Linked DNA regions of Homo sapiens: region 1 is linked to region 2. Evidence: fine-mapped expression QTL. Tissue or cell type: whole blood. Region 2 holds a variant in brackets; the other region holds the start of a gene. All regions are shown on one strand. Distances are between the middles of the regions.

Region 1 (2,500 bases), 91 kb before region 2:
TACATCAAAAAAGGATGGACCAGAAAAATTTAGAAAAAAAGCGAAGTAGCTTCCAGCTAGTGTACAGTTAATATAAATTGTCAATCCACAAGCCTAGCACCCTTGCCCAAATCCATCTTAATAATAACACTTTTGTTTAAAATAGCATAAAATAAAATAGTAGCACTAGCACTCATGTCTATTCATCATTCAAGAAAAATTCATGTCCAATTCATTGCAGTCTGCTTTCTTTGTGTCCCCTGGAAGCTGCTTGCCTCCTTAGATGGGAGTGACTTAAAAGAAAAAGGGGAGGGGGGAATATACGGAGCAAGTCAAAAATCCTTTTGGCAAGAAAAATCCACAAACAATGGTGTAAAATGCATTGGAAAATAATGCTGCTGAAGTACTATGACTATGACACTCTGTAAGCTTTCAGGCACAATGAGCCAGCCTGAGCCTTCGCACTCTCACCCCATTCAAACTCCAATAAAAATGTTTTCAAGAAATGGCTCATACTTATTTATTCCTACATCCAATATAACATAAGGATGTCAAAATTTTCCATCCTCAGCTGTGTAATCTGGGCTTTTAATTTCTCCCACCAAAAGTGCATATGGCATACTCCTTCCGAGACCAAACGATTAAAGCAAAGTCTGGAAAACTTTGCACTAAGAGCCAGTCTGAGACAGACTATGCAGTCCTCATTCCTCTCATTACAGTTCCCCAGGGCAGTGGAAGCCAGGCCTGGGGAAGCCAAGGAGACTTGAGCCAATGCCTGCCGCGATTCAAGTCAGACACCCTCTGATCTCCAGTGGCTGCTGTGAAGCGGCTCCAAGTCTTAACTTCTCACCGAGGTATTTCCCCGGCAACTTTCAGAGCAGATGGACTCGGGTGTACTGTGAACCCCTGGAGTGGGTCTCAAAGACCGGGTCTCTGCTTGCTTGTCTGCTTGCATGTCAACCTCAGTGACCGAGACTCATCTTAGAACTCTCCGGGACACACAAGGGACTGACAGTAAGGAACACGCATACACAAGCACACACCCGCAGGCACAGCTTTCAGCTTGCAAGGTAACCTGTAAAAGGCACTCTCTTACCTTATACTTCATTTCGGCAGCGGTGGGTTGAGCCGTTTTCCTACACTAGTTAAGACAGCATTAAGCACTGCGGTGCCCGCCCCTCCATTGAGTGCAGCGCTAGATGAAAGCGAGAAGGTCCCGGGCAGAGCCGCTTGTCAGTCGCAGCGCCTCCCTCAAGTCTCTGAGCTCACTGTTGTGACTGAGGCAGGCTGATCGCGGACCTCATTTGCATGCCGCCCCGCCATTGGCTAGTGGGACAAGGTAATGCTCAGGCCCTGCCCACCCCTAATTCTGAAAAACTGACAAAGAACTTGTAATGTGATCGCTTCTTTTTGCTTTATCAGACGGTGGAAAATAAAACAGAAAGTGGGGAACCGTCCTGAACCTTACTCTGTCCTCCCGCCCCCGCCAAAAAAGAAGACAGAAAGAGAAAGAACAGGAAAAGGAGATACATTCTTTTTAAGATTAACCCAAATTTTAAAGAAACTGAATTCACAAAAGCAGTCTGACAGTCGCGCTTCCTGTGACCTAGCAACTCCTTCATAAACCCATTTCGTTTCAAAGCCATTCACCTCACAATCTCTACATGAAACGAACTCCGGGAACAAAAGGTTTTCTGTCTCCGGGCCCCTTTTTACTAACCACCCCTGCTGATACCTCTCTCTCTCTCTGTCCCTTTTTCTTTCCCCCTCCTCCCGCCTACTTTTTGTGTGTGTGTGACTGTTTGCTTTTTTTGTTCTTTTCAACGTTCAAAGTACTTTGCGATGTCAGTCTGCAAGGAGCTGGAAGACAATTCTCCCTTAGTGAAAAGGAACCCTCTAGCACACGCACCAGCGTTTTCCTGGACAGCTTCTCACCAGGGCCTCAGAGTTGCGGGTCACACATATTGAGCGACCTTCAGTGGCTTTGCTGAGGATAAAGGTTAGATGTGACCTCTCGGATGGGGTTGGCCAGTGCACGCCCTATACATCATCACCGTCCACTGAGTTCTGTGTTCTTTGACGGCTGGCATTTCTAGCTCCAGCTTTGAACACTGCAGTGTTTTTCCTTCTGACCTCTGTCCTGAGGATGACCCATTAACCCACCAACACTTATTATCCAGGAGAACGAAAATGCCCACTGTTTGATGAGCCTGGTTAAAAAGACCAGTCTCTCTCCAGCGAAGCACAGAACATAATTTCTATAAAGGTTCCATTTTAGGATTTCTATAGAGAAAGAGAATCACCCAGAAAACAGAAATGGTCACCTTCTGCAACTCTTCTCACGGACAGAGCAGTGAGGCGAAAAATTCCTTTTTCCCGGGCAAGACTGAGACTCGGTGAATCCAGACAATAGCTGTCCCTGAGTGGGATGCACTCCAACCAGACTACATGACTTGGATGGAAAAATCAGCCCTTATTTTTTTTTTTCCTGACCAAGTTGGATCAGAATCTGATTCCCTTC
Region 2 (2,756 bases):
TAATGGAGTTCAGTGTTACTCAAGGGGCAGTCACCTGCACAGTCATTACCGGAATGACGTGTTTCATCAGATGTTTCAAATCCCGATTCTTGGGGCCTGCTCTAAACCTGCCTACCAAGGCTCTAGGGGCGAGGCCTGGGGACCTGCATTGTTTGCAAACACCCACAGGTGATTCTTACATGCACGAAGCCAGGGAAGCATTGATAGAAAAGGTCTTAGACCAGCAGCCAAAAAACCCAAGTTCAAATCCATTTACTACCTGGGTGGTCTTGGGCAAGTTACTTATTAATTCCCGGCATGGGAGTCAATACTACTTTATAGGAATTTTTTATAAGTTATAGGAGATACGCTGTTATGTTATAGGAGTTATTTTTTTCTCTTTGAAGATTAAAAGAGACAAAACATATGACAAGGCTGGCAAACATTGAGCTCTTGCTACATAGTAGTACACAGTGCCCTAGAGAGTTAGCAAAGGGACGGTGAGCTCACAAAAATCTTTGTAGGCCTCAGGATATATATATTTTGCAGTGACTTTCAAGGCTGATCTAACTCTCTTTGGATGAACACAGAGCAAGGAGACTTGCCCACTGAGTGACTTTACTATACCCCCAGGCCTTACTAACTTGCCCAGGAGTGGGGAATATAGTGCTAGAAGGAAGCCAAAGCAATAAAGAGACACTTTCAGAAAAGCAGGCACTGCAAAGACAACCATTCCAGCTGGAAGAGCATGTGGTGGGAGTGGCGTCCTCTCAGACATGATCCTCTGCAGGGCTCATGGGCTCAAAGTCACAGGTTCTCACCAAGGGTGATGATTTCCCACAGGGAGCATCTAGCAACGTCTGGAGACATTTTTGTCACAGGGTAGGGAAAGGGGGTTGCTACTAGCATGCAGTGAACAGAGGCCAGAGAGGCTGCTAAACATCCTACGGTACACTGGACAGTCTTCCACAACAGAAAACTGTCTGGCCCCAAATGTTCATGGTTTCAAGGCTGAAAAACACTGCTCTAAGCTAATGCAGAAGACTTAGTCATGGGTGATAGAAGGAGGCCCCTAGGTGGCTACAAACCTCTGAGGGACAGCCTTCCGCTGTGGTGTTGCAAAGTCTCCCAGTTGCACAAGGTCCTGGCGTCCTGCTCATTGGTGGATCACCATTAACCACCTTGCACGTCACATGTTCAACATAGCTAGTTTCCCACCCATTCTTAAC[G/A]ATGATAAATCAGGAAAAGCATTCTTAGAACACTAGAAAAGCAGAAGTGTGGCTCTCTACAGGGCAGCGGGGAGGTTGCCTCACTCCTAGAAGATGTCTTGTTTTTACCAAGAGGGTAGAGGGATGAGAGGAGCTGGAAGACCACGCTGAGGAGCCACGTCCAGACACATGAAACGAACCTCACAGCCCCACAAGGATGCCGGGGAGGGCACTCAGTGCTTGGGATCAGAGCCACGTGGCCACTGGTTTCCGATGCCCCTTTGCTAGTATCTGGCTTCCGTGATTCCCTTGCCTTCATTTTGTGGCTCTCTCCTGACACTGCCGGCTGAGTGTCTTAGTTAACCAGTAATCTGGCTTTTCTCCCTCCACTTTGATCTTCCTGTCTCTGCCTGTCTCCTCTTTCCTGGCATGGCATGTGCTCTCGGGCTGTACCTCTGGTAGTGAATCTCTGGCTGCCCTGGACTCCTGCTGTGCACACTGCCCTGTGTGCAGGTCTGGATGCCTGGTGTTCCTTCTCAGTGCACCGCCCGATCCCCTGGGATCTCTTCACCATTTTCATGCATGGTGCCACCCCACGTGCAGGGCCAGCTTCATGGCACGTCACCTGTGTGCTTGCATAGGACTTGGTGCTCAGAAGGACTTCTTGATGGGTTTCATGCTCTGCGGCCACCGTATTAAAATTGTAATAATTTCCTCTTGAAACTTGTATTTTGTAAGTGACTTCTGATGAGACAGCATGGAATGAGCAGAAACACAGGAGATACGTGTGCCTGTCCTTTCTTGTCACCCTATTCACATGGAGCATTCGCCATGAACTCAGAATTCTGGTGTATTCACAATGTGTGGGAGTTCATGAAGCTTCTAAGTGACTCCCAAGTGTGTTTTGTCTATGATGAGTTAGCTGGGGAGGGGGAGGGACACTGACAGCCCTGAGAGGCCACACTTTCCATTTGAAAACCAAAACTTGCTTCAAACACAAAGGCAGCAGTGGTATTCTAAGAAACACATATGACCAAGGAAACTTGGTTTGACCTTTCTTACTCATGTTACTTCTTTGCATTTGCAAACAACTTAAACTGAAAATGAAGACACAGAAAGAAATAGAAAGATAAGGCAACCCATAGGCCTTTTTTAAATTCTTCCTTACTTGTCAGTAAGCCAAAGGTAGAGAGCATTGATAGAACGTGCATGTATCAGGCCGGGCACGGTGGATTACGCCTGTAATCCCAGCACTTTGGGAGGCCGAGGTGGTGGATCACCTGAGGTCAGGAGTTTGAGACTAGCCTGGCCAACATGGCAAAACCCTGTCTCTACTAAAAATACAAAAATTAGCAGGGTGTGGTGCCGGGTGCCTGTAATCCCAGCTACTCGGGAGGCTGAAGCATGAGAATCATTTGAACCCAGGAGGCAGAGGTTGCAGTGAACTGAGATCATGCCACTGCACTCCAGCCTGGGTGACAGAGAGGGACTCTGTCTCAAAAAAAAAAAAAAAGAATGTGCATTATTGAGAAGCGAAATAAAAGCATTGAATTAGTTTTGTGCAGCATT

Evidence for each region. PIP is the estimated chance that this variant, and not a neighbour inherited with it, causes the effect.
Region 1: NEDD9 starts here. The variant in region 2 is fine-mapped to the expression of NEDD9 in whole blood (TOPMed, PIP above 0.99).

Annotation. Positions count from the first base shown.
Region 1 is chr6:11,231,429-11,233,928 of GRCh38, forward strand. NEDD9 (neural precursor cell expressed, developmentally down-regulated 9) reads right to left here and starts at 1,240. Exons shown (of 7, transcript NM_006403.4): 1 at 1,076-1,240. The coding sequence starts at 1,087. RefSeq lists silencers at 748-797, 1,278-1,327.
Region 2 is chr6:11,322,670-11,325,425 of GRCh38, forward strand. The region is part of intron 5 of LOC105374925 (a long non-coding RNA gene); the gene reads left to right. It also overlaps a transcript of NEDD9 not described here. Among named protein-coding and RNA genes, the nearest start is that of NEDD9, 91 kb to the left of the region's middle. The variant G/A (reference allele first, on the strand shown) is at 1,209.